Linked DNA regions of Homo sapiens. The protein of the gene in region 2 purifies or fractionates together with the protein of the main gene of each other region. This does not show direct contact. Each region holds a gene or a part of one and is shown on either strand. Other genes may lie near its edges. The genes, in order: STAT5A and STAP2.

The links.
Region 1: the proteins of STAP2 (region 2) and STAT5A purify together in Homo sapiens (co-immunoprecipitation; one study listed by IntAct). This does not show direct contact.

Annotation. Positions count from the first base shown.
Region 1 is NC_000017.11:42,291,213-42,295,021, forward strand, and holds part of STAT5A (signal transducer and activator of transcription 5A), read left to right. Parts: intron 1-759; coding exon 760-849; intron 850-3,809. UniProt on the Homo sapiens protein: Carries out a dual function: signal transduction and activation of transcription. Mediates cellular responses to the cytokine KITLG/SCF and other growth factors. Mediates cellular responses to ERBB4.
Region 2 is NC_000019.10:4,328,777-4,332,585, reverse strand, and holds part of STAP2 (signal-transducing adaptor protein 2), read left to right. Parts: intron 1-507; coding exon 508-564; intron 565-2,524; coding exon 2,525-2,625; intron 2,626-3,776; coding exon 3,777-3,809. UniProt on the Homo sapiens protein: Substrate of protein kinase PTK6. May play a regulatory role in the acute-phase response in systemic inflammation and may modulate STAT3 activity.

The DNA.
Region 1 (3,809 bases), on a different chromosome or scaffold from region 2:
GCCATTGCTGATCTGACAGGAAGCAGAGTTCAGGCTGTAATGCGAGCAATAGGCAGCAGCTGTAAATACAGATGAAGCGTCACTCACTTGCTCACCGCCGCTCACCTCCTGCTGTGTGGTCCAGTTCCTAACAGACCACCGACCTGTACCAGTCCATGGCCCAGGGGTTTGGGACCCCTGTGTTACAGTCAAAAGATACGGTAGATTGGAAGTGCTTCATAAGACTGGGTATGATGGCTCACACCTGTAATCACAGCACTTTGGGAGGCCGAGGCGGGTGGATCACCTGAGGTCGGGAGTTCGAGACCAGCCTGACCAACGTGGAGAAACCCCGCCTCTACTAAAAATACAAAATTAGCCGAGCGTGATGGCACATGCCTGTAATCCCAACTACTCAGGAGGCTGAGGAAGGAGAATCGCTTGAACCCGGGAGGTGGAGGTTGCAGTGAGCTGAGATCACACCATTGCACCTTTAGCCTAGGCAACAAGAGCAAAACTCCATCTCAAAAAGAAAAAAAAAAAAAAGAGAAAGTGCCTCATAAACTGTGGGTTTTTAATTCGCTCCAAACCAGATATGAAGATCTTGGAGGGGAAGATGAGGATGAGGAACAGAGATATAGAGGTGTCTGGGGATAGTTCCTGAGGCTCCCTGGGAAAAGCTGAGGCAGAGGCTGAAGGAGAGGAAGGGCTGGGCATAGCATGGGGCTGGCATGGCTGGAGCAGAGGATGGCGCTGGAGGCTACTGTTGGATTCTTTCAGAAAACATATGACCGCTGCCCCCTGGAGCTGGTCCGCTGCATCCGGCACATTCTGTACAATGAACAGAGGCTGGTCCGAGAAGCCAACAATGTGAGTGTCCCTTGGGGATGGGGAGGAGTGTTGAGAAGTCCCTCCATATGCCTTTCTCTCCAGAAACAACTGTGTTTATATAAAACAGCAGCACGAGGAGAGCACCAAGAAGATGAGGGACGTGGGCAAGTGTAAGAGGTGGCAGCATTGCACGCCGGGGTGGAGTGACCCCCTGGATCCAGTCCCTGGCTCTACCACTTACTAGCTGTGTGACTTGAGCAAGTTGCTTAATCTCTCTGAGCCTCTGTTCCTGTTTTTTTTTCTTTTTTCTTTTTTCTTTTTTTTGAGACGGATTCTTGCTCTGTCACCCAGGCTGCAGTGCAGTGGCGTGATCTCGGCTCACTGCAAGCTCTGCCTTCCAGGTTCACACCATTCTCCTGCCTCAGCCTCCCGAGTAGCTGGGGCTACAGGCGCCCACCACCATGCCCGGTTAATTTTTTGTATTTTTAGCAGAGATGGGGTTTCACTGTGTTAGCCAGGATGGTCTCAACCTGACCTCGTGATCCGCCCACCTCGGCCTCCCAAAGTACTGGGGTTACAGGCGTGAGCCACCACGCTTGGCGCCTACTGTTTTTTCCCCCCCGAGATGCAGTCTTGCTCTGTTGCCCAGGCTGGAGTGCAGTGATGTGATCTCTGCTCACTGCAACCTCTGCCTCCCAGGTTCAAGCAATTCTCTTGCCTCAGCCTCCCGAGTAGCTGGGATTACAGGTGCCCACCACCATGCCCGGCTAATTTTTTTTGTATTTTTAGTAGAGACGTGGTTTCACTATGTTGGCCAGGCTGGTCTTGAACTCCTGACCTCATGATCCACCCGCCTCGGCCTCCCAAAGTGTTGGGATTACAGGCGTGAGCCACCGTGCCCGGCCTGTTCCTACTCTTGTAAAATGGAGATAGCAATCATACCTATCTGTGTCAGAAGAACTAACACAGGCAGGCTCAGAGAAGTGAGGCCCAGGGAGGGGTAACAGGGACACATCTCCCCAGTTCTGAAATAATAAAGGCACTGGGCATCTACATGGACAATGGCACAGTGCTGTACTATCTGCAATAGAGCAAAATGAATTTCACAACATGACGTGACAGAAATCTTAGAACAGTGACCGGAGCACAGGTCATATTTATTATTTCTTTCTTTATTTGTTTGTTTGTTTATTTATTTTTGAGACTGAGTCTCACTCTATCATCTAGGCTGGAGTGCAGTGGCGTGATCTCGGCTCACTGCAACCTCCACCCCTTGGGTTCAAGAGATTCTCATGCCTCAGCCTCCCAAGTAGCTAGGATTACAGGGGCCCACCACCATGCCCGGCTAATTTTTGTATTTTTAGTAGAGACAGGGTTTCACCCTGTTGGCCAGGCTGGTCTCGAATTCCTGACTTCAAGTGATCCACCTGCCTCGGCCTCCCGAAGTGCTGGGATTACAGGCATGAGCCACCACGCCCGGCCTATTACGTATTTATTGTTGTGGACATGGATTTCAGGATTTACTCAGTAGACATTTATTGAGGTCTTACTGTGTGTCCGATGCTGGGCTATCATCAGAGAAACACATAAAGGCCTGGTTCTTGCCTGGAAGGAATTCTGGCAGTGATGGATTCTCTAGAGATGAGCTGAGTGCTAAGGGGGCCTAGGTGGAAAAAGCACCCAACTCAGATTGGGGCAGGCTGGCAGGGGAGCGTCCTGTGGACAGGCATGTCTGAGCTACAGTGGAGAAAGGCAGGAGAGGAGGGATGAATTTTCTAATGAAAAGACAGCAGCTGCGAGAGCAGGAGGGCATGAATCTTCTTATCACATTGGAAGACTTGTAAGTGGTCAGTGTAACTGGGGAGAAGGAACCAAGTGGGGAGTTGCCATGGATAAAAATAGATAGAGAGGGCCAGGCGTGGTGGCTCACATCTGTAATCCCAGCACTTTGGGAGGCCAAGGTGGGCGGATCACCTGACGTCAGAAGTTCGAGACCAGCCTGGCCAACATGGTGAAACCCAGTCTCTACTAAAAAATACAAAAATTAGCTAGGCGTGGTGGCGGGCGCCTGTAATCCTAGCTACTCGGGCGGCTGAGGCAGGAGAATTGCTTGAACCCAGGAGGGGGATGTTGCAGTGAGCTGAGATTGCACCACTTCACTCCAGCCTGGGCAACAGAGCGAGACTCTGTATAAAAAAAAAAAAAATAGGGGTTAGAAACCAGGTCACAAAGGGTCTTCCAGCACAGCCCCTGTGTCCCTGACTTGTTGCCATCACAGAGCTATCTGCAAACCTAAAAATGACTTCAGCCTCATTGACAAATCCATGTCCATGGTGCTGGTGCTGTCATGGTCTGGGAGCTCATTCCTTCCTCCAACCATACAACTGTTCCTGAACACCCCTGGCATTCTAGGGCTTGGGGATTCTGTAGTTCACAGGAAAGGCAAGGTCCTAGCCCTTGGGAACCTCACATCCTTGTGCAGGGAGACAGACAGAAACATGTAAGCAAATACAAGAACAACACACTTTTAGATAGGACTACTGTGAATTGGCTCGTCAGAGATGACCCCTCTGCAATGGTACCAGTTAAAGTGCTTTGCCTCAGGAGGATCTGATGCCAGAATGTTCCAGACTGTTGGAACAATAAGTGCAAGGGCCCCAGGGCAGGAACATGCCTGTGTGTTCAAGGAACAGAAACAGAAAGCACACATTCCCAGCGAGCTGGGGTTGGAGGTAGGCAGGGCTATGGCCAGCAGACACCATGGGAAGGGGTTTGGATTTTATTCTGAGAACAGTTCATTGGAAAGCCTCTGAGGACTTGTTCCTCTTCATCCATGTGCTCCCTCCCTTTGTGACCTGGTTTCTACCCCTCTCTCTCTATTTTTTTTTTTTTTGAAACGGAGTCTCGCTGTGTTGCCAAGGCTAGAGTGCAGTGGCGCAATCTCGGCTCACTGCAACATCCCCCTCCTGGGTTCAAGCGATTCTCCTGAATGTGCTGAA
Region 2 (3,809 bases):
CAGGCGTGAGTGAGCCACTGCATCCAGCCTGATCTATGTTTTTCAAATGTTGATATAATAACATCAAAAATCATAATATCAGCCAGGCATGGTGGCTCATGCCTGTAATCTGAGCACTTTGGGACGCCAAGGCAGAAGGATAGCTTGGGCCCAGGAGTTCAAGACCAGCCTGGCAACAAAGCGAGACCCTCATGTCTAAGAGAAAAAAAAAAAAGCTGGGCGAGGTGGTGCATGCCTGTAGTCCCAGCTACTCAGGAGGCTGAGGCAGGAGAATCGCTTGAACCTGGGAGGTGGAGGTTGCAGTGAGCTGAGATCGCGCCACTGTACTCTAGCCTGGGCGACAGAAGAATGAGACTCCATCTCAAAAAAAAAAAAAAAAAAAAAAAAAAGAAGAAAAAGAAAAAAGAAAACGGCCCTTTGAAGCAGGGACTCTTCCCTAGTCCAATTTCATTGATGAGTAGACTGAGGCTCACTGACTTGGATTCTTTCCTTTCTTTTGTTCCCCAGGTAGAGACCTTGGAGTGTCGGGAAATGTGGAAAGGCTTCATCTTAACGGTGGTGGAGGTAAGAGTAGTGGCTCTCTGCGCCCTCTCTCCCATTCTCCAGATCTCCTCAAAAAGCCTCCTTTTTCTTTCTTTCTTTTTTTCTTTTTTTGAGACGGAGTCTCGCTCTGTCGCCCAGGCTGGAGTGCAGTGGTGCGATCTCGGCTCACTGCAAGCTCCGCCTCCCGGGTTCACGCCATTCTCGTGCCTCAGCCTCCGGAGTAGCTGGGATTACAGAAGCCCGCCACCACGCCCGGCTAATTTTTTTGTATTTTAGTAGAGACGGGGTTTCACTGTGTTAGCCAGGATGGTCTCTGTCTCCTGAACTCGTGATCCACCCGCCTCAGCCTCCCAAAGTGCTGGGATTACAGGCGTGAGCCACCGGGCCCGGCCAAAATTTTGTTTTATTTTTTTGAGACAGAGTCTCACTCTGTTGCCCAGGCTGGAGTGCAATGGCACGTTCTCAGCTCACTGCAACCTCTGCCTCCCCGGTTCAAGCAATTCTTGTGACTCAGCCTCCCGAGTAGCTGGGATTACAGGCGTCCGCCACCACGCCTGGCTAATTTTTGTATTTTTAGTATACATGGGGTTTCACCCTGTTGGCCAGGCTGGTCTTGAACTGACCTTGAGTCATCTGCCCGCCTTGGCCACTCAAAGTGCTGGGATTACAGGCGTGAGCCACAGCGACCAACCGTATTTCTTATTTTATTTTTTTGAGACAAGGTCTCTCTCTGTTGCCCAGGCTGGAGTGCAGTGGTGTGATCATAGCTCACTGCAGCCTCCAACTCCCAGGCTCAAGCAGTCCTCCTGCCTCAGCCTCCCAAGTAGCTGGGATACAGACACACACTACCACATCTGACTAATTTAAAAATTTTTTTGTAGAGCAGGGTCTCACTATGTTGCCCGGGCTGGTCTCCAACTTCCGTGCTCAAGCAATCCACCCTCCTTGGCCTCCCAAAGTGATAGGATTATAGATGTGAGCCACCATGCCTGGCCACAGAGTGCTAAGTTTTTAAAAATTAGCTGACATTGGCCAGGCGTGGTGGCTCACGCCTGTAATCCCAGCACTTTGGGAGGCCGAGGCTGGCAGATCATGAGGTCAGGAGATCAAGACCATCCTGGCCAACACGGTGAAACCCTGTCTCTACTAAAAATACAAAAATCAGCTGGGCGTGGTGGCGGGAGCCTGTAATTCCAGCTACTCGGGAGGCTGAGGCAGGAGAATGGCTTGAACCCGGGAGTCGGAGGTTGCAGTGAGCCAAGATCGCGCCACTGCACTCCAGCTTGGTGACAGAACTAAACTCCATCTCAAAAAAAAAAAAAAAAAAAAAATTAGCTGACATCATTTATCAACCGGGAATTTTAGTCTACCTTCCTGATTTCCCTCTGATTTCCCTGTTTCCTACCTCACCCTGGCAGGCCATTGAGTTTGAGACCTGCCTGGCCCCTGCAGACTTTAGTTTGAGACCCTAGATTCCAGCATCTACTTTTTTTTTTTTTTTTGGTGGGGTTGGGGAGCGGGGAACGGAGTCTCACTCTGTCACCCAGGCTGGAGTGCAATGGCGTGATCTTGGCTTACTGCAGCCTCCGCCTTCCCAGGTTCAAGTGATTCTCCTGCCCCAGCCTCCCGAGTAGCTGGGATTACAGGTGTCTGCCACCACGCCCGGCTAATTTTTTGTATTTTTAGTACAAACGGGGTTTCGCCATGTTGCCCAGGTTGGTCTCGAACTCCTGACCTTAGGTGATCCGCCCGCCTCGGCCTCCCAAAGTGCTGGGATTACAGGCGTGAGCCACCGCGCCCGGCCCCAGCATCTACTCTCATGCAACACTCCTCTGCAACCCTCTCGAAGCCCTCTTTGCCCTCTAAGGTGTCAGAGTTCATTGCTCTGAGCTCTGGCCTCAATTTGCCACTCTGTGACTTGGGCACAGCCGTCCATTCCCGGCTGGCCAGGTGCAGTCACTGTCCCTCGATCGCCCCTCAGCTCCGTGTCCCGACCGACTTGACCCTGCTTCCTGGGCACCTATACATGATGTCTGAAGTCTTGGCCAAAGAGGAGGCGCGCCGTGCACTGGAGACACCCTCGTGAGTGTCCCGCCTGTCCCGAGGGGCTGCAGGATGGGGACGGGAGGTGGTTGTGTGGCTGAGGGTGGGCGGTGAGTTGGGTCCCCTGGAGTTGGGTCTTGGATTTTGCATGAGGACTGCCTTGGGGCTGGGGGTGGGGGAGGGGGAGGGGGAGTTATGGCCCATGCTGGGGAGGCAGGGCAGGATCTCCAGGAGCGGGTCTAGGGGCCTAGAGGACTGGTAAGGTCTTCAGTGGCGGGGCCTAGGCCTGAGGAGTAGGGACAGGGTCTGGGGGTGGTCAGTCTAGGTGTCTAGAAGGTGATGCTTCGTCTCCGGGGAGGAGTTATTTGTCGGAGAGGGTAACCGGGACCCTAGAGGCGGGGCCTGGATGGGGGGCGGAGCATCGTCTTTGTGGGCGGTTCTTGGTGATCAGGGAGGCGGGCAGGGCCTCCAGGGTAAGGTCTAGGTGTTTGGAGGGCGGGACAGGATCTCCAGGGGAGGCTCTAGGTGCCTACGAGGCAGGGCTGGGTCTCCCTAGGGGTTGGAGCTGCATCTCCGGGGCCAGAATTAAGAGCCTGGCTGGCCGCGGTGGCTCGCGCCTGTCATCTCAGCGTTTTGGGAGGTCGAGGCGGGAGGATTGCTTTTACCCAGTTCGAGACCCATCCTGGGCAACATAGCGAGACCCCATCTCTAAAGAAAAAAAAAACCAAAAAACCCGGCCAGATGCAGTGGCTCACGCCTGTAATCCCAGCACCTTGGGAAGCCGAGGCGGGCGGATCACCTGAGGTAGGGAGTTTGAGACCAGCCTGACCAACATGGAGAAATCCCGTCTCTACTAAAAATACAAAAATTAGCCGGGCCTGTGAGGAAGGGGAATCGCTTGAACCCGGGAGGCGGAGGTTGCGGTGAGCCGAGATAGCGCCATTGCACTCCAGCCTGGGCAACAAGAGCGAAACCCTGTCTCAAAAAAAAAACAAAAAACCCCACAAAAACTAGGAGCCTGGAAGGCCGGACTGGGTCTCCGTGGGAGGGGCCTGGGTCTGGAGAGCAGGGCAGGGTCTCCTGGGCCTAGGGGATGGGGATGGGGCTGGGTCTCAGAGGAGGCAGGGTTTACGTGCAGAAGAGCGGACTTGGTCTCCGGGGTCCCGAGTGGGTGACGCGGCCCGCCACAGGTGCTTCCTGAAGGTGAGCCGGCTGGAGGCACA